Linked DNA regions of Homo sapiens. The protein of the gene in region 3 interacts with the protein of the main gene of each other region in a pairwise test. Each region holds a gene or a part of one and is shown on either strand. Other genes may lie near its edges.

Region 1 (7,025 bases), on a different chromosome or scaffold from region 3:
ATATTTGTTCATTTTATTCAAAAGTGACATTAGTCTTGGCCAGGGAAATGGAAAGGAAAGGCAGGACAAAGTGCAGAGATAATTATTCGTAATATTTTCACGAGTTTGAATTGAAAAAGCAGCCCATTAAATGATAGTGGCAATTCTGACGACATGAGAATTAGCAGACAGCAAGGGCCAGAGGCTTCAAAAGTGTCTGTGGGCCGGGTGCGGTGGCTCATGCTTGTAATCCCAGCGCTTTGGGAGGCCGAGATGGGTGGATCACCTGAGGTCAGGAGTTCAAGACCAGCCTGGCCAACATGGTGAAACCCCATCTCTATTAAAAATATAAAAAATTAGCCGGGTGTGGTGGCAGACTCCCGTAATCCCAGCTACTTGGGAGGCTGAGGCAGGAGAATCACTTGAACCTGGGAGGTAGAGGTTGCAGTGAGCCAAGATCGTGTCACTGCACTCCAGCCTGGGCAACAAGTCAAGACTTCCTCTCAAAAAAAAAAAAAAAAAAAAAAATCCGGGCGCGGTGGCTCACACCTGTAATCCCAGCACTTTGGGAGGCTGAGGCGGGCGGATCACGAAGTCAGGAGATCAAGACCATCCTGGCTAACACGGTGAAACTCGGTCTCTACTAAAAACACAAAAAAATTAACCAGGCATGGTGGCAGGTGCCTGTAGTCCCAGCTACTCGGGAGGCTGAGGCGGGAGAATGGCATAAACCCGGGAGGCAGAGCTTGCAGTGAGCCGAGATCACACCACTGCACTCCAGCCTGGGCAACAGAGCAAGACTCCGTCTCAAAAAAAAAAAGCATTTGTGAAACGTTAAGCTGGGGAAGTGCTGGTGACAGCAAGGATGATGATACTACCCTGTATTGATTAAGCATTCATTGTGTGCCAGGCAGGCACGGTGCTCAGCCTTTTAGAGGCACTTATCTCATGCAACCCATCCTGACAGCAGCCCTCCGAGGCAAGCTGTGTGATCACCCTCCAAGACAGCGTGGCTTTGGAAAGCTGTGGTGTGAGCTGAGCACCAACTCACAGCCAGGCCCCCGGGGTTGGATGAGTCAGGAGCTGAAGGTCAGAACCAGCACCCTGGAAGGAGGACTCAGGTTGGCAGGCACTTCCTGTACCTGAGCACCTGACTTAGTACCAGTGATCAGTCTCCTCACAACATCCCTTCCTCAGCTGGAGCTTACAAAGGCATTCCAGCTGTGGGGGTCATAGAATATTGGGAAAGCCCTGAGAAGAGCTGAATCCGTTGGCTTTCAAGCTATTTTGGTTCCAGGGAGGTGTTTCATGGGTTCTAGTCAATTTTGACTCATTTCTTTTGTGTGTGTGTGTGTTTACTGTTTTAGAACTGTAAGAGAAAGCAACATTCACCTTTGTGTCACAGATCAAATGGTAACCCACTGAAGACCACCCCATTACCTTGTGCTAGAACGGAACTGCCTCTGCCATCTCTCTTTAACAGAAGCACATCCTGAGAACCTGAGAGCTCAAGGTAAGTGGCTGAACACTGTCAACACATACAGACATCTAACTGTCTCCTTACTGTACAGCCATAGCAAGAAACAAACGCATGCAATGCTGTCAAGGTAGAAGACACCACTGTTTACTACCCCAGTCCCAAATATCTGTGTACGTTAGCACAGCCTACCTAGCTCTTCTGTCATTGTCTTTTTAAGTAAACATTATACATTTGAACTGAATTTGTAGCAATGACATACTGCTTTTATCTGTTTTATATATTCAGTGTATTCATATCATAAATGAGGAAACCTTCAGAAGGTGAACTTGCTTAAAACACAAGACTCAGCTACTAAAGAAAGTCTAGCACACCCACCCCCACCACACCCAGGCCAGTACTTTACCAATCCTCCTGGACACCCTGGGGGATTCTGATCTCTCCCAGTTTACAGCTGGGCCAGTGGAGGCCGTGAGAGGATATGAGACAGCTGGACTAAGAACCAGTCCCAGAGCCTGTGCTCTTACCATCTCCAGATTCAGGAGAGGGAGCTTCTGCTGAGTGAAAGGTGCTCATACTTTATAACACAGTGTACAGTACTTGGCAGCCAGGACTCCCAAAAGGGAAAGGTGAACAGATTTGTGCAAGGAAATTCCAGCATGTAGGAAGTCAGAAAGCACCATGGATGCTTGCTCTCATGGCCACATGTGGGCCCCACGTCAGCCAGGGACCTCATGACCCAGTGACAGGCCACAGTAGGAGAAAAAAACTCCTAACCTCTACACAGCCCAGCAGTCTCTAAACCAGAGCAGGGGCTGCATAAACACCCCCGGGAAAGAGAGGTACACCTGTTGATTTATTTGGGGACAAGAGCTAGCTTTGCCAGGCAGCGACCCAAAGACCACCCCTCCAATGGTGAGAGAGGGTGTGTTCTAAGCCTCAGAACTCAAAGGAACCAACATGGATCAGGTGTAAGAAAACAGGGCTGAGGCCAGGCGCAGTGGCTCACACCTGTAATCCCAACACTTTGGGAGGCCGAGGCGGGTGGATCACAATGTCAGAAGTTTGAGACCAGCCTGGCCAATATGGTGAAACCCCGTCTCTACTAAAAATACAAAAAAATTAGCTGGGCATGGTGGTGGGCGCCTGTAGTCCCAGCTACTCGGGGGCTGAAAGCATATTCAGGATTTTGTCTTCCACAGTCTCTGGGAGAGGGAGCCACAAGAGGGATAGGAAAGAGATGCCTTGTTTCTCTTGCCAACCTTCTTTTGGGATCTGTCCTCTAAAGGCTTTGCCTGTCATGCTTTGCTACCTAAAGATGATGGATAGCCAAACTTCAGTTACCCACAAGTGGCTTATCCATTTGGGGATTAGCTAAGCAAAATTAAAATCCCAGACTGGGCTGGCTTCCCCCACCCTGTCCTCCATTGATTATCTCTCAAGGAATGAAAGCTAACTTTCGCCTGAGCAAACAGAATTAGGAATGTAAATCTGCTGCTGGGGGAAAAAACACAAACATGACAAACGCTTTCCCTGTGTTCAAAGCCAAGCTGAAGTGATTGTTGGCTTCTCTGTGCCAGGATTGACCCTCTGCTGCTGCAGTCCCCAGGTTTTCTGGGGAGCCTGTGAAAGTCCAAAGTCTAGGCACAGCAGAAGTTCAGACAACACAGAACATGAAAGAGCCTGGTCACACAACCCAGGAGAGAAGGGGCGGAGGGAGACAGATCTCAAAGGGAACATCCAGAACTTCCATGCTGGGGTGTCAGGAGAAGAGCATTCTTTGTCCTAGAGACAGGGAGAAGACAGAGGGACGCTGATGGGAAGAGAGTGAGCCAGAGGCAGAATGCTTTGACTGCCTGTGGCACTCGGAAGAGCTGCCCGGCCCACAGCCCTGTGCTTAGTTAGACAGCCTGCTGTAATTAAGGGCCATGCCTGCCAGGTCCTGGCCCAGGCACCCTGAGTGCAGGTCATCACCACTCAACACTGAGCCCCAGTCCTGCTCCCTTCCCAGACTTCCTAAAGCTTTTCTTCCTAAGGATTGAGCAGCTTGGGAATGGGGCCCAAGTGGTACCAAGGGCACTAGTGCACACCCCCACCCTTAGTAGCCCTTGAACTCAGGCAGCCTCAGGGGTAGTCTCAAGCAGCTTTCTCCCACAGCCCTGGAAAACTCTAAGGGCAATGCATGAAGGTTCAGCTCCCTGGGCTCTTTGGCCCCCTTCTTCTCGAGCATATGCCCATCTCAACGCATTCCTTCTCTAACCAGCCCCCAAGAAGTGGAGCCCGTGGAAGCTAGGGAGGTCTGAGCTGCTCCAGCCTCTCAGCTTCAGGTTGAACTCCATGTGGGGGAAATGTCCCAGCCCACTAAGCTCATAAATCCAGCAGTACCTGGGGCATCTGGGCCAGTTAAGGACACTCAGGCCAAGTCCCAAAGAGACATGCCACTGTCAAGCCTGAGGCTTCCTGCCCCTACATTCAGATGGCCTTTCTACTTAAGCTATGGCACTAGTCTCTGTAACTGGCCTCTTTCATTCTCTCTGGCATCAGGAGGGGATGAGCGATACGGACTGTGCCTAGCCAGTGGGGAACTCAAGGAATGAACTCCCAGAGAGCCGTCTCTTCACCTCTTATGTTTTCAGCATCCCCACACTATGCCAACAGGTGCCCCTGCTGTTTAACCAAGTCCAGGCACACCTGGCTGGCCAGCCCAGAGCAAGAGAGCCAGCATGTCTTCACCTGCTGGGTCCGTTAGGGGAGTTGTGGCTGTAGGGCTGGAGGAGGGGCCAGCAGGTCTGTGAGAGTGTATGTTGGGAGGGGCAGGGCAGGAGCGCATTTGTACACCAAGGGACAGTGATGTCAGTGTTATGACACAGACCAAGGACAAAACACACAAAGCCTCAAATGTTAGAATGAAAAATTTTATCATCACTCCTGTTCACCCCGCAGAGTCTGCGGAGTGCTAAAGGGCACACCAATAAGGATCCGAGGGAGGGGGTCTACATCTGCTTTTTCAGCCCCCAAAGCCATATATTGGGGTGGCCCAATATAAAGCTACTCATTAGTTTGGTTCCTGAGCAGACCTGCTAATAAACCTCAAAAACACAAAAGTCTACTTCACTAGCCAGAAATGAAAGCAGGATCTAGATCTGAGTGGGAAGGGCAGAGGGCAGCATGGGTTGACTCTAGTTGGAATTGTGCCAGTCTTCTCTGGAGGCCGACTCACTCGTGGAGTGGGGAAAGGGGTGGCCAGGCCCCAGTCTAGAAACCCCAGGCCTATGGGAAGTGATGCCAGGGGAAGGGAAGCAGATAAGCTGGTGGCTAGTTCCCAGGAAGGCACCAACCTCCAAAATCACCTAGGCAAGGACAGATGCCCAGGGGTGCCATCTGTGAAAGGGGGGAAAAGGCAAGAGAGCCCAGAAAGAAACTTGGATGCTATAGGGGGTTCCAGAAAGGTGCTCCTTGCTACCCCCATTTGGGGGCTCTGACATGGGAAAGACTCCGAGTCACCCAGGGAGGAGCTGGGCATGCTGGGCAGGAACCACCCTGCTAGCCTCTCCCAAAAGCAGGGGTCTCAGGCCAAATGCCCCTCCTGTTCCCTTCCACTGTCAACCCTCTCCAGGGAGGCCCAGGCTAGCCAACAGGCCACTGGGTAAAGGCCCTGCTGCCCTCTGGGGTGGTCCAGCCCTGCCTCAGATATCCCGGCGGGGCTGGGCAGAAGAGAGTGTTGCTGGAGTGTGCTGGGCCCAGGTTTTCAAGGGCTGGGAATGATTTTTTTAGAGAAAGGGAAAAGGCGGTGTCAGGAACCGAATGGGACGACCTCCACAAAGCAGGCTGGGCAAAGTCCCATGATGGCAGGTCGCTAGGAAGAGGTTCCAGGGGCGGCAGGCCGCTGCTGCTCCCAACCCACACCTGGAAAAAGGGCAGAGAGTGCAGGTTACCCCCCCAGGCCACCGGGCTTGCCCCCACTGCCCTCTGGGCTCCTCCTACTCTGCCCGGGCTAATCAGCACACTACCTGAGTCAGAATGTGCTCTGTGATGAGAGAATCAGAGACAGAGAGAGAGAAGGCAGCAAGGCAAAGACAGATCCCAGCAGGCCCACCCTGGGTCATCCTCCAGGGAGACTGCCTAGCCCAGCACCTGTGAACACCGTCCACGCCTGACCCCCAGGGGCTCTGCCCTACTTACGGCACATTCATCCCTCCCTGCTGGTCTCCCTGAACCCTCTCCCCTTGCCACCAACAGGATAAGGAGAAGCAGGTTATCCTATCAGAGACTGCAGTGCACACCCCACAATCATGGCTCGCCCTCACTTGATGGGAACTTGGCATGGGAGAGGGGAGATAACCAAGGAGAAGACAGAGGTGTGTTCGCTATCCACACAGGAAGGCTCAGTGGCCAGGAGAGGAAACTCAATCTTTTGGGTACCAGCAGGGCCCCCAGATATTGTTCAAGCAGGTAAACCAAGGGTGAGAATCTATCTGGTCCAGCGTTTCCTACCTGCTACTTTGCAAAGAGCTAAAAGAAGAAGAGCCCACTTTGCTCTCCAGTCCTCCAGAAACCCTGGCTTAGGATGGGTTAAACAGATGCCAGTGTGGGAGAGGGGACCACCCACTCCCTACCTCCTACCTCCCCCACTGCCTTGTGCCCTAAGCTGAGGGGACCCAGGAGGAGCTCTAACTGAGGTCAGAAAAGGGGAAGAGTGGTTGGCTGGACCACCAGGAGCCCTTTTAAAAAAACCTGCAGTCCCTACAAACTGCTGGAAACCAACAGTCAGGCCCAGCGCAGTGCCGGGTCTCCCAACACAACATCTGTGTGATACGGCCCACCATCCAAGGAGCCGGCAAACACCAGGAGAGGAAAGCCAAGCAACAGAGTGAAGGCAAAGACAGGGTGGGAACCAGGACCAAGCAACCAGGAAGGAGGAACGTCAGCTGTGGGGGAAGGGGGCCTGGGGGAAGAACAAAGGAGGAGAGCAGAGGGAGGGTGGAGGAACAGAGGGGAGGTGTGCAAAGCGGTGGGCGGTCAGCCGGGCCCCCGGCACACGCAGCGGCTGGCTCAAGGCTGCGACCGTGAGAACAGCATCATCTCCTTCAGCCCATCTCTGCCCTGACCCAGCCCCTACCTGACACTTGTGAGGCCGCTCAGAAGTGTGCACCTGCTTGATATGTCCGTTCAAGTGATCAGGCCTGGAAAAGAGAGAACCAAGAGGGACTTTAGAAACTTGGCCAGACCCCACCACACAGGCACATATGCATACGTGTGTACACACACACACACACTCACTGCTGGAAAGGACTCCCTCTCCCCAACCCCAGCATGACAAAGACAAAGTCACCACCCAGTTCTGGCTCCACAGGCCCAGGCCTCTCTGCCCTGGTTTTCTCTGGAGGGGGGAAGAGAAATGGGCATTTGTCTCTGATTTTGCCTCCCCACTCCCTCAATTCTCCCCACCAGAAACTCAGTGTTTTCTAGGACCAGAGGCGGTGGCAGTAGAATGAAACAGAGCTGCCTCACTGCAGCCTTTCCAGGAGGGGATATGTGATTCATTGTCCAGACTAAAGCCCCTTAGAAA
Region 2 (7,025 bases), on a different chromosome or scaffold from region 3:
GTCTCTACTAAAAAAATACAAAAAATTAGCCGGGCATGGTGGCAGGTGCCTGTAATCCCAGCTACTCGGGAGGCTGAGGCAAAGAATTGCTTAAACCCGGGAGGCAGGGTTGCAGTGAGCCAAGATCGCACCACTGCACTCCAACCTGGGTGACAGAGTAAGACTCCGTCTCAAAAAAAAAAAAAAAAGTTTTCTCAACACTTATCACAGCCCCCACACAGGCACCCTGACTACTTATTTTCTTCTGTAATGTATTTCTGTAACTACACAGCCAACACAGATACCACAGCTTTGTAAGCGACTTACTTAAATAGCTTATACCAATAGTGTCATTAATAGAGACATAGACAATGTAGGGAATAGGAAATCTGTAGTTTGTAAAGGGTTAGAGAAACCTGTATTCAAGTACTAGCTTCATCATTTGCCCATACTGAGAGCCTGTCATTCCTCAATTATCAACAGGGATGAATTCTGCTCTCCTACTTCACAGAATTACTAAGATCGAGAGTCAATGAACATTTTCACTAAATGAGCATTTTCATTGAAAATGAAACAATGATGGTCAATAGTTACCATTCAAGGATAGCAGATGTGGCTGAGTCTGACCACAGACAACACAAAGAAAACTGACTAAGGAAGCCCCAACTGCAGGACAACCTGGCCTTCAGCCTGAGAGTTAAATGTAACAGAAAGCACTGCTGTCTATTCCAGGATGGACTGGAGGCAATTTTCTGCCTGAAATTCAGTCCTCCCAATGGAGACCTCTCTGTTCATCCTTCTGTTTTGAAGGTCAGAGGGCACAGGTGGCATAGGCAACAGGAACCTCTATCTGTAGGCAGAGAGGCACAGGCAATGTGTTCAAACACAGATTTCAGAGTCTGAGCTGAGTATGGGCCAGTCACAGGACTGTCATGTGGCACTGGCAAGTGACAAACCCTCTCTCTATACCTTATCCTTCTGACAAAGGCAAGAGAGTCTTCCATATGGAATTTTTGAGGAATGGGTGACAACATATGTGAAAATATTCAATATAGTGCCTGGCACATGGTAGCAACTTGACAAATGTTAGCTATTATTTCTATGACTTTATCCAGTCATTGGGTCAATCTGCCATTTCCAGACCCCTCCACTAGGGGGCAGATATGCACATAAAGAAGCAGTAAAAGAAGGTAATTTTGGCATTTGTCCCCAGAGCCCCAGTGTTCTGCCATGGAAGGAAATCAAAGTTGTTATCTGAAGATGGTTTAAGGACCAAGGACCTTTTATCAGCTATTCAAACAGTAAATATTTACAGAGCCACTACTATATTGTGATCCTGAGAAGGGGAAATACAGAGCAGAGGTTTAGGATTAAGAAAGAAAAAATTTCCAGTGGCGCATGCCTGTAATCTGAGCTACTCGAGAGACTAAGGCAGGAGCACTGCTTAAACCCGGGAGATGGAGGTTGCAGTGAACCGAGATTGCGCCACTGCACTCCAGTCTGGGTGACAGAGGGAGACTCCATCTCAAAAAAAAAAAAAAAAAAAAAAAGGGCCGGGCATGGTGGCTCATGCCTGTAATCCCACTACTCAGGAGACTGAGGCGGGAGAATCACTTGAACTTGGGAGGCGGAGGTTGCAGTGAGCCGAGATCGTGCCACTGCACTCCAGCCTGGGTGACAAGAGCAAAAGTCCTCCTCAAAATAATAAAATAAAATAAAGTGGGCTGGGTGTGGTGGCTCACACCTGTAATCCCAGCACTTTGAGAGGCCGAGGCAGGCGGATCACCTGAAGTCGGGAGTTCGAGACCAGCCTGACCAACATGAAGAAACCCTGTCTCTACTGAAAATACAAAATTAGCTGGGCGTGGTGGTGCATGCCTGTAATCTCAGCTACTCAAGAGGCTGAGGTAGAGAATCGCTTGAACCCAGAAGGCGGAGGTTGCGTTGAGCCGAGATCACGCCATTGCACTCCAGCCTAGCAACAAGAGCAAAACTCTATCTAAAAAAAATAATTAAAAAAAAAATAAAAATAATAAAAGTGAACACCAAGATAAAGCTGCCAATTTGCCCGTCCTCCAAATGGCTTTTCCCTTGATATCACATCTTTGGGTAAAGCTGTCAGAGTGTGTTAAGGAACCCAGAACAAAGGAAGCTTCTCTTTGTCATCTTACTGCATGCCTCTAAGTACGTTCCCTCTCCAGTTGTGTCCCCAGAAGCCCAGAAATAGGCACGATGCAGTTAGGATGCTGATTTGGATGACCAGAGAGTATAACATAACACCTTCATCACCCAATCATCACTTATTAAGATAAAGGATGGGTTGAGAAAGCTATAGCAGAGCTTGCCTTATTGTGTCAGGCAACTGTAGAAGGAGGACTACCACCTTCAGCTGTTATTACATAGAGCTGGATTCACTGGCCAAATTCCAGAACTAGCCAGGCTCTGAGTCTTACGCTCTCTCAAAGAAATGAAGTCTAAAGGCTGGACCATTTTTAACTTCTGATGATGTTCTCACATGGCAGGGGCTGGCAAACGACAGCCTGCGTGCCTGGTCCAGTTGCTGTTTTTTTGTAAAAAAGTTTCACTGGAACACAGACACCCTCATTTGTTTATTGTCTGTGGCTGCCGTTGCCCTACAATGCCAGAGTTGAGTAGATGCAACAGAGACCACATGGCCCACAAAGCTTAAATTATTGGCTATCTGGGCTTTACAGAAAGTTTGTTAACCCCTGTCATAAGGGGTTCAGTTAAGGTGCTGAAGCACCTTTCCTATCAAAGGGAAGCCTAGCCACCTCAATGATTTCCCCTTTGTGCTCTGAATGGAAGGTCTATTCCAAATTTAGGGCTGTTTTTACACCTGAAGATACTATACATGGTAATGTGCCAAGAATAGAATATTTTCCTTGCAGATCATGTATTACAGGGAGAGAAGGTAGGAAGGAGTCCGGGAAAATATGAAGTATAAAACCCCAATTCCAGAAAGTTAAGACAAGAATCTAACAGTTTTCAAAGGCTCAATCTTCTGGGAAGTGTATTAGCAGGAAAATGCCCAGAGAGACTGAGAAAGCTAGCTCTCCATCTCTTCTGAGGGCAAAAGCTCCCTGACTTCCTGTGAACTAAAGTCACACTGACTCAGAAGGCAGGTAGCAAAGCCAAAGGGAACTGTCTGTTTCCATGGTAGACTACTAAGAGAGTTCAAAACAAGAGAACAGCATAGTTTATTTCAGAGATATAGTAAGTAATCTGGACTGTGAGTTTTCATTCAATTCCCTATGAAGGTTCAAACTGAAACACCTTTTTTAAGGGTGATATATATATATATATTTCCCCTGAAGCTCTTTATAGTTTTGTTGTTCAACAGAAAGCTATCAGCAACAATTAAAATTGAGATACAATGGGGAATTACAGAATTTAAGCAGACCCCTAATGGCTGGACACAGTGGCTCACACCTGTAATCCCAGCACTTTGGGAGGCCAAGTTAGGGGCATCACCTGAGATCAGGAGTTTGAGACCAGCCTGGCCAACATGGTGAAACCCTATCTCTACTAAAAATAGAAAATTAGCCAGGCATGGTGGTGGGCACCTGTAATCCCAGCTACTCGGGAGGCTGAAGCAAGAGAATTGCTTAACCCGGGAGGGAGAGGTTGCAGTGAGCCAATCAAGATCGCGTCATTGCACTCCAGCCTGGGTGACAAGAGCAAGACTTCGTCTTAAAAAAAAAAAAAAAAGAAAGGTGTCAAAATTCAAGGTCAGTGTACCCCAGATGTGCTTCAAGGACGGCCCAAATGTAGAGACAAAAACAAAGAATCACACATGCTCCATAGGATCCAGATTACTTACATTTCTGAAGTCCAGTGTTCATCTGCGTGTGAGAAAGAAGCTGAAAGGACAGGTCACCTGGCCCTGGTAGACAGGCTAGCATGGCAGATTGGCATCAACACAACATGGGGCAGTGGCTCACACTGTAATGAACAAAAACAAGGTCATGAAACACAAGGCAACTCATTCGAAGAAGAGAGTAGGAACACTGGATATGACTGGCGTGAGGCCCAAGTTTAGACACATAAAGCAATTTAATTAGCAGTGTGTTGGTTGAAAGTATACTTACATCTTTATCTGTGACGACAATTTGCTGTCAAATATCACTATGGTTAAAATGATTTTTCAGTTACCACAGATGTATGGATGGGAGAAATAAAACTGGAAAGCACCTATTCATACAACTGGAAAGTACAGGTGCATTTATAATGTCTCAGTATTCCTGAGGAGAGTGGGCCCTCATAGGGCCTGGCTCAGCCAGCCCATTTATAGGCCTGGTTGGAGACCAGCCAGACATTTTCAGAAGCAGCACATTATATGATTGCAAAGGTACCCAATGTCTGACTTGTGAGCCAGTAATATGAACCCACTTTTATTTTATTTTTTTTGAGACGGAGTTTCACTCTTGTTGCCCAGGCTGGAGTGCCATGGTGCGATCTTGGCTCACTGCAACCTCTGCCTCCCAGGTTCAAGCGATTCTCCTGCTTCAGCCTCCCGAGTAGCTGGGATTAAAGGCACCCGCCACCACGCCTGGCTAATTTCTTTGTATTTTTAGTAGAGACGGGGTTTCACCATGTTGGCCAGGCTGGTCTCGAACTCCTGACCTCAGTTGATCCGCCCACCTCGGCCTCCCAAAGTGCCGGGATTACAGGTGTGAGCCACTGCACCCGGCCATGAACTTACATTTATTTACTTATTTATTTATTTATTTAAGACAGAGTTCTGCTGTCACCTAGGCTGGAGTGCAGTGGTACAATTTTGGCTCACTGCAACCCTTGACTCCTGAGTTCAAGCGATTCTCGTCCCTCAGCCTCTCTAGCAGCTGGGATTACAGGCGCATGCCGCCATGCCCAGCCAATTTTTGTACTTTTAGTAGAGATGGGGTTTCACCATGTTGGTCAGGCTGGTCTCAAACTCCTGACCTCAGGTGGTCCGCCCGCCTCAGCTTCCCAAAGTGCTGTGATTACAGTCATGAGCCACCGCACCCGGCCGAACTCACTTTTAAATGGAAGGAGGAAAGCATCCTAGGAGGCACAATTAACCACTGTTAAAGCAAATTCTGTTTGCAAATTTCTGGGGCTTCACCCTTCCTGACATGCAATTAGACCTCCTGAACTACCTCTCCCACCCCCTCAAAAGAAATGCATTGCTCCCAGACTAAAGCAAGGAGAAAGGCTGCCAGCAGCTCTCTTCGTGCAGGCAATCCTGACATGTCAAGACCGCACGAGTTTCATTAGTGATGTTTACCAACCAGACATACACAGCCCAAGCAAGCAGACATTGATGGGGCCTTCTGTAGCGAAAGAAGCCCTGTCAACAATGCAAGCTCCTTAGGTAACAGAAATACGATTTTCCTAAATAAGTACACGAACTTCTTTTCCCATATTTCAGAAACCAAGGTGGCAAATTATGGCTTTAGATCACAGCAAAAAAGGAGTGGGGGAAAAGCTCAAAAGTTAAAGACGACAAAAATCTCCTTATTTTCTTGAGAGGGCTCTCTCAGGTATATTAAACTACCTTGTCATGATGAGTATCAGAGGGCTCCTGCTTCCAAGACCAGGTAGCTGAAAAGACACTTTGTAAAAGAGGCTGCTCAAACTGTGTCTAAGATAGCAACTGCAGAAAGAACTGAAGATTGAATGCCTTAATGAGAACAGAGCTGTCCAAGAGTTCTGGCACAGCGTCAGTCTTTTTAAGATCTCTGGTGGGTGGGAAAACAGAATGAACACAGTGAGCCAACTTCAGTGCCTCAAGAAAAAAAAAAAGTCTTGGCCGGGCACGGTGGCTCACACCTGTAATCCCAGCACTTTGGGAGGCCGAGGCGGGCAGATTACCTGAGGTCAGGAGTTCGAGAACAGCGTGGCCAACGTGGTGAAACCCTGTCTCTACTAAAAATACAAAATTAGCTGGGCATGGTGGCGCATGCCTGTAGTCCCAGCTACTCAGGAGGCTGAGGCAGGAGAACTGCTTGAACCCAGAAGGCAGAGGTTGCAGTGAGCAGAGGCTGCGCCACTGCACTCCAGCCCGGGCCACAAGAGTAAAACTCTGTCTCAAAAAAAAAAAAAAAAAAAAAAAAGAGAGACTTCTGTTGGGGTCTGGATGCTGATCTTTACATAATAACTTCTCCCTTAAGACCCTAACACAGCTGAAGGCAAACTCCAAGGAAAGGAAGAGAATTAACAAGTACTGGGAGCTAAAACTGTGAAATGGGCTGTATGAGGGGCTTTAGTGATGTTTTCTTAATTGAGTCTCTCAAGCCTTGGAAACAGGTAACAAACTTCACCTGTCATCTCATCATCTCTAGATGGGATTACTATTAGCCTTCTAAATGGTCTGTTCCACGCTTACCCTTTATCACCCAATCTATTCTCTATTCAGCAATGTTAGTTCTTTTTTTTTTTTTTTTTTTTTTTGAGATGGAGTCTTGCTCTGTTCCCCAGCCTGGAGTGCAGTGGTGCGATCTCGGTTCACTGCAACCTCCGCTCCCGGGTTCACGCCATTCTCCTGCCTCAGCCTCCCGAGTAGCTGGGACTACAGGCGCCTGCCACCATGCCCGGATAATTTTTTTTTGTATTTTTAGTAGAGATGGGGTTTCACAGTGTTAGCCAGGATGGTCTCAATCTCCTGACCTCATGATCCGCCCGCCTCGGCCTCCCAAAGTGCTGGGATTACAGGCGTAAGCCACCGTGCCTGGCCCAAACGGGGTTTCACCCCATGTTGGCCAGGATGGTCTCGATCTCTTGACCTCGTGTTCCGCCCGCCTTGGCCTCCCAAAGTGCTGGGATTACAGACGTGAGCCACCGCGCCCGGCCAATTCTGTTAACTGAAAGTCAGAGCAGCTTAAATATCTCTAATGACTTTCCATCTAAGAATAAAATACAAAATCCTAACATGGACCCCAAGGCCCTCCATGATCTATTACTACTGGTTCTCTGACCTCACCTTCTGACCTACCCTGCCCTCTCTTGCTGACTTACTTCCAGCCACCATGGTCTCACCATGGTTT
Region 3 (7,025 bases):
AGACTCCGTCTCAAAACAAAAACAAAAAAGACACCTTGGGTGATTGGATTGGGAAACCTAGGGCTAGCTGCAGGGATTTCTGCAGTGGGAGGCTTCCAGTAGAAGAAAAGGAAGACATCGTAGGTGGGCCCCTCGACTGTGTATCCTAAGGAAATGAGGCATGAAAAAGGACTTCACCTTTTTTCAGTGGCTGTGGTGGGCCAGATGAGCACTTGTGGCTGAGAGACTCCCTCTTTGGAGAGAGGTGTTCTCAGATTTTCCTCACTTTGGTTTTATACTCTGTATTAGAGGTTTGTTTGGGTTGGCAGCTTGCATCTTCTCTTCACTCTGAGCTCTTTCTGCAGTTTGAAGAGTGATAAAAAGGTCAAGGACTTTCTTATTAGCAATGTTGATGGATGTGGGTCGTGGGTTTATTGCTTGTTTTGACTTCTTTTAACAGCTTTTCCTTTTTCTTCTCATTCTTTCTTTAGTGAATCAGTTTATCAGATAGAACTGTAACTTCTTGTTGCACATTGGCTGTATATATTGAACATGTCCAGTGGCATAGTTTAACTTTTTTTCCAGCCTATGCCTAACTGCCAGGCCATCTTCCAGATCAGCATCTTTCAGACTGCTATAGAATCCTTCCTGCTGATGGCCTTTTTAAAGGCTTGGCAAAATTTTGTATTCATCTTCTTCTTCTTTTTTTTTTTTTTCGAGACAGGGTCTCCCTCTGTCGCCCAGGCTGGAGTGCATTGCCGCAGTCTCTGCTCACTGCAACCTCCACCTCCCAGGTTCAGCTGATTCTCCCACCTCAGCTTCCCGAGTGGCTGGGACTACAGTCGTGTGGCCACCAAGCCTGGCTAACTTTTGTATTTTTAGTAGCGATGGGGTTTCACCGTGTTGGCCAGGCTGGTTTCAAATTCCTGACCTCAGGTGATCCGCCTGCCTCAGCCTCCCAAAGTGCTGGGATTACAGGCATGAGCCACTGCGCCTGACTATAATTCATCTTCTAGGGGTGCGTTTGGGTGTGGTGATCCGTGGGCCCTTTCAGCTAACTTCCTTGCTTGTTCTTTTACCTCATGCATGACTGTTGTTTCCATGGAGATTTTCTGGCTAGCGTACACGCTCTCAGTTGTGTGTCAGCATCTGAAAGTACTGTATACTTTTCACCTTGCTTATTTTTACTTTTTTTTTTTTTTTAAATTTTGGAGGCGAGGTTTTGCCAGCTTGGCTAGGCTCGTCTCAACTCCTGGGCTCATGTGATCTGCCCACCTTGGCCTCCCAAAGTGCTGGGATGACAGGCGTGAGCCACCACGCCCGGCCTTCCACCTTATTAAAAAAATTGGGCCAGGCGCGGTGGCTCACGCCTGTCATCCCAGCACTTTGGGAGGCCAAGGTGGGTGGATCACAAGGTCAGGAGATCAAGACCATCCTGGCTAACACGGTGAAACCCCGTCTCTACCAAAAAAAAAAAAAATTAGCCAGGCTTGGTGGTGGGCGCCTGTAGTCCCAGCTACTCAGGAGACTGAGGCAGGAGAATGGCGTGAACCCGGGAGGCGGAGTTTGCAGTGAGCTGAGATTGCGCCACTGCACTCCAGCCTAGGCAACTGAGCGAGACTCCGTCTCAAAAAAAAAAAATTACGTATACAGAAAAGTTGAGCGGACAATACAGTGGATGTCCATAGTACCCACCACTTAGATTCCCCAGTGATCTTTCCCCATATTTACCTTATGTAAGGATGAGTGTTGTGTGGTTTTTCTTTTATTCTTGTGGAATCAATTCAGAATCCTTTGTGTCTTGTCCAATGGACTTGAGTGTAGCCCTCCCTAACATGAGTGAGGTGTGCTTTTGCCTGTCCACACTTAGAAACAGCAGGTCTCTAATTTTAAAAGTAGCTCCTATTTACATTTGCCCAGTTACCCCCTAAGTTTTAAAAAACGTTTGGAATCAGAATAATGTACTCAGCATCACATAGTGAATTTTTTATAAAGTTGAATTTATGTCTCTTATCTCTTTCAATCTGTAGCAGTCTTCCTTGTATTTTTTAATACTTTGACTTCAAAAGAGTGATTAGGAAACGTTTCAGATATTTACAGAAATACATGGGAACATAATTCCCACTCACACATTGCCTTGCTTTAGCACAAGTACATGGGAATATTCCTACTCACGGCCGGGCGCGGTGGCTCACGCTTGTAATCCCAGCACTTTGGGAGGCCAAGGCAGGCGGATCACGAGGTTGGGAGTTCGACACCAGCCTGGCCAATATGGTGAAACCCCATCTCTACTAAAAATACAAAAATTAGCTGGGTGTGGTGGTGCACGCCTGTAGTCCCAGCTACTTGAGAGGCTGAGGCAGAAGAATCTCTTAAACCTGGGAGGTGGAGGTTGCAGTGAGCCAAGATGGTGTCAGCACTCCAGCCTGGGTGACAGAGCGAGACAGCGAGACTCCATCCAAAAAAAAAAATTCCTGCTCACACATCACCTGGCTTAAGCACAAGTACATGGGAATATACTTCCCACCTACACATCACCTGGCTTTAGCAGTTACCACCTTATGGCTGATCTTTTTCATCTGGGCCCCTGCCACTTTCCTCTGTATTATTTTGAAGCAAATCTCAGACATTATATTCATCAGCTTTTTAAATATTATCTTTAAAAGATAAATTAGAACTGTGTCATTGTCACACCTAAAAATTTTTTTTATCACTACTGAGATTGTAATCAGTGTTCATATTTCCAGTTATCTGTCATGAATGTTTTTAATTGTATGAAGAAAGGGAACCCTGTGGGTTTGTTTGTTTAAACTGTTGGAAGTTTGGAATGAGATTCCCAACTTTGAAGTCTAGCATCTGTTCTCAGGATGTGACACACAGAGGGTAGCTCTATGTTTTGACATTTTTATAAAAAAAATATCATCTTGGTCAGATAAGAGTTTGGTGACTCCTGGGAGGATCTCTTTTCAGGCTAGTGGAAATATGAGGCAGAAAACTGGGATTAAGCCGTACAGTGGGGATCCCATTCGGCAGTGTCTCCTTTAGGTACAGCTGAAGGTACCCGCTGGTGTCTGGCTGCTGCATGGTGGTGGGAAATGAAAGAGGTGGTGTGGCTGGGGAGAAGGGAGCTATCCAAGATGACCCTTGACGTCCCTCATCCCCACAGTTTCTTTCATTTGAGACATCCTTGCCCCACCTGCCCCTCTCTGAGCTGACTCCTCATTGCTTGCCAAGACTGCATAAAATGCTGCTATGTTGGTGGTTTGTTTTCCTGTGATTTCTTTTCCCCCTGAAGCCAAGCACCTTATGGAGAGGGCTGGATCTGTCCTGATCATCTCCGCTGTGACAGGGCATGGCCCCATGTTGATGGTGAATAGCCTCTCTGTGTTGGTACAATGCCCCAGTCACCATTCACTAGTCACATGTGTGCCCGCCACACACCATGCTTCCTTTTTGCATTTCTTCCCTGAGTTAGCTAGTCACTTAGGGGGAATTGGACTGTCCCGGGTCTCCTGGGAGTATCAGTACATGGCCGGACACACTACCTTTTCCTTTATAATTCTTTGATGGCATTCACACTACCTTTTTCTTTATAATTAAAGAAAATGTTATACAACCTCGTTGTGGCGTAATTGGCATACAACTAAGTGTACAGATTTAAAGCTTCAGTTTGATGAGTTTTAACCTGTGTACACCTGTGAAGCTTTCCTTTTCACTTTCCTTTTTTAGCCTTCTTAAAGACGAGGAGATGAGCAGCCAGAGAAGGAAACTCTGTAACTGCTCTTGTCTTGAAACTTGCTTTTCCAAATCCTAATGGAAAATCTGCGTATTCTGCTTTCCTTTGGCCAAGCACCAGTATTAAAAAGTTGTTGTATTCAAATTTTGGCAGTGTTTCTATTTACGGTTAACATAGCGGTGAGCGAATTTCAAAATACAGGGAGCCCTGGAGGAATCTTTTCTTTCTTCAAATGGAGACTAGCTGAGGTTGGGAGTTGCTTGGTTTGGGTAGAAGGGTCAGGACTCTGGATGCAGACAAATCTGGGTGTGAGCACCCGCTTTGCTGCATAGGACAGGACCACCTGTTGTTTGGTCTGCTGCAGATCTCAGCCACAGCACCTCCCACCGTGAGACCATGAAAGGGCATGCAGGGGAGTATGAGAAGGCTGATGTTGAAGGCTTCGTGTTGCTTAATTGATACAGTGTGCAGTATTTAGGTGAAAAAGCCCAGACTTCACCACTGTGCAATATATCCATGTCACAGAATTGCACTGGCACCCCAAACAAAAGGCCCCAGACTAGTGAATTTCCCAGGGGGCCAATCATTCTCTTTCCCTTTCAAATTAAAACAAAATATATGGACCAGGCACATATATATATACAGGCTCACACCTGTAATCCTACTACTTTGGGAGGCTGAGGCAGGAGGATCATTTGAGGCCAGGAGTTCCAGACTATCCTGGCCAACATGGCAAAATCCCGTCTATACTAAAAATTACAAAAATTAGCTGGATGTGGTGGCACATGCCTGCAATCCCAGCTACTCGGGTGGCTGGGGCATGAGAATTGCTTGAACCCAGGAGGCGGAGGCTGCAGTGAGCTGAGATTGCACCACTACACTCCAGCCTAGGGAATAGAGCAAGACTCCATCTCAAAAAATAAAAATAAAAAAAAAATACACACACGTACATATTGCTAACAGCCCAGTTGTGTAAAATTTTTTAAAAATTAACTTTAATTATTATTACTATTTTTCTGAGACAGCGTCTTACTTTGTCGCCCAGGCAGAATGCAGAGGCATAATTACAGCTCACTGCAGCGTTGACCTCCGGCTCAGGTGATCCAAAATTCTTTATACTCAGCTCATTTTTTCAAACTTGAGGTATAATTTATGCACAAAACACCCACATATTAAGTGCTCAACTGGGTGGGTTTTGACAGTTGTACATGCCCATGGAACCACCACTCCAAATAAAACATGGAATACTTTGATCATCCCAGAACGCTTTCTTCGCCCTCTCCCCTCTGATTTCCGTCACCGTAGGTAAATTTCTTTGTTGTTAGGGAATAAACGGGATCATTGCTCTATGTGCTGTTCTGTTTCCAGCTTCTTTGGAAAGCTCAGCATGTTGTGAGATTCATCCATGTTTTTTCCTTTTGATTGCTGAGTAATGTTTATAGAGACATATCATGATTTATCCTTTCTCCAGTTGATGAAGATTTGGATTAGTTCCCATTTTTGGCTACTAGGAATAAGATTGAACACTTTTTACAAGTCTTTCGTGGACCTGTGTTTTCATTTTTCTAGGGGAAGTTTTGGGAGTGGATTGCTGGATGTTGCGGGATGTGTCTCTGGCTTGCAAAGTTGCACTGTCTGACACGGACAGTGTGTGAGTGCTCCACCCCTCCTGCTCTCACCCATGGGAATGTGAGATGCCATAAGCACTTGTATGGAGGTCTGATTTACATATTATAAGTTAATCCTTCTCAGTGTACAGTTTGGTATGTTTGGACAGTCATACACAGCTGTATGACCGTCACCACATTTGAGTGAATGCACTCTTTGGAAAGGTTCTCGCATGCCCCTCTGGCCCCTGGCACCATTGCTGGGGTTTTGATGACTCTGGATTAGGTTGGTCTTTCCTAGAGCTTCTGTCAGTACATGCATCCAGCATGTGTCCTTGTATCTGGCTCCTTTGACATGGTGTGGCTTTGTGATTCATTCATGTGCTTGTATGGATCAGCAGTTTGTCCCTTTGGCTTGCTCAGTAGGATTTGTATGGATGCACCACAGTGTGTTTACCCATTTGTCTCCTGGTGGGCATCTGGGCCATTGCCAGCTTTTGATCATTGTGAATATAGCTGCTGTGAACATAGCTGTCCAGAGACCCTCTCCCTCCCCTGAGACCAAACCCCTCTTCTCTGTTGGGGTCAGGAAGGGACACCTAACTGCTTATTCAGCAAACTCAACCACTCTACTAGATGGGGTCTCTTTATCTGCTTCTGGAGACGGGTTGGTGGCCAGCAGTTTGCAGGGCTTTGGGGAACGGCTCTCTTGGTGCCAGCTGCTCCTCGCTGCTGGCTGAGTGCCTTCTTCTCGAGTCTGCTCAATCATCCTCCACTTCAGCTTGCCAGGCTTCAACATGCTGTCTTCTCTTCCATTCTTGGTGAGTTTTATGTCTTTTTTCTCTTAATCTGCTTTATTGTCATTTTCATGTCATTTTGTGTGGGGACAAAAGCAAGTATGTGTGTTCAGCTTTCTCCCTTAACCCAGAGGGCTTTTTACCATAGAGTGCTTAGCCAGTCCTGGTGCTGGGCAAGTTTCTCCTGTTTTTGCTGTAACAAACAACACTATGATGAGCATGCTTACAGTTAAGTCTCTGTGTGTGTATAGATCCATGTGTATTGCTTTAAGACAGACTTCTAGAAGTGGAATTGTGGGATTAAAAGGCATATATACTTTAGATGCCAAGTTTAGCCCCAGGAATGCCATACCAATTTAAATTCCAGCAGGACAAGACAGTTTTTATTTCCTGTCCTTGTGTGAGCATTCCATCTGTAGAACGTTCTCTTTTGGTATTTTTTCCTCCTCCCCAACACCCTGCCACCACACACACGTGCATGCACACACGTACACAAAGTAAGAATGAAGTCAGATCTTAGTGGAGGAGAGTGGGGGCGGCAGTGGCAGCAGGTCTGGCGAGTTGCGTGGGGCTGACACGCAGCTTAGCTCCTCCCTGCCTGTGTCCTCTCCCTGCGCCTGGACCGGCTTGGGTGAACTCAGGCCATTGCCTTCTTTGTTCCAGGTTACACTCCTGGCACACCTTACAAAGTGTCCTGTTCCCCCACCAGCGGGGCTGTGCCACCGTACTCCTCCTCCCCGAACCCCTACCAGACTGCCGTGTACCCTGTGCGAAGTGCCTACCCCCAGCAGAGCCCGTATGCACAGGTATGCTTGGGTACACACTGCTGTGTGGGAAGGGGTGATACCACCTGGGCGTTCATCCTTTGGCCCTGGGACCCTGTGTCAGTTGTCTCTCTTCTCCCCA

Evidence for each region. Proteins that work in one complex are often made in the same cells at the same time.
Region 1: the proteins of FAM168B (region 3) and PATZ1 interact in binary tests that used the Homo sapiens proteins (3 or more experiments, as listed by UniProt).
Region 2: the proteins of FAM168B (region 3) and FAM222B interact in binary tests that used the Homo sapiens proteins (3 or more experiments, as listed by UniProt).

What each region holds. Positions count from the first base shown.
Region 1 is NC_000022.11:31,336,322-31,343,346, forward strand, and holds part of PATZ1 (POZ-, AT hook-, and zinc finger-containing protein 1 isoform long C), read right to left. Parts: intron 6,640-7,025; coding exon 6,576-6,639; intron 5,363-6,575; coding exon of another isoform or gene 5,084-5,362; exon of another isoform or gene 4,358-5,083; intron 1,701-4,357; exon of another isoform or gene 1,347-1,700; intron 1-1,346. UniProt on the Homo sapiens protein: Transcriptional regulator that plays a role in many biological processes such as embryogenesis, senescence, T-cell development or neurogenesis. Interacts with the TP53 protein to control genes that are important in proliferation and in the DNA-damage response.
Region 2 is NC_000017.11:28,762,766-28,769,790, forward strand, and holds part of FAM222B (protein FAM222B), read right to left. Parts: intron 3,943-7,025; 5' UTR 3,903-3,942; coding exon 3,821-3,902; intron 1-3,820.
Region 3 is NC_000002.12:131,055,453-131,062,477, reverse strand, and holds part of FAM168B (myelin-associated neurite-outgrowth inhibitor), read left to right. Parts: intron 1-6,782; coding exon 6,783-6,925; intron 6,926-7,025. UniProt on the Homo sapiens protein: Inhibitor of neuronal axonal outgrowth. Acts as a negative regulator of CDC42 and STAT3 and a positive regulator of STMN2. Positive regulator of CDC27.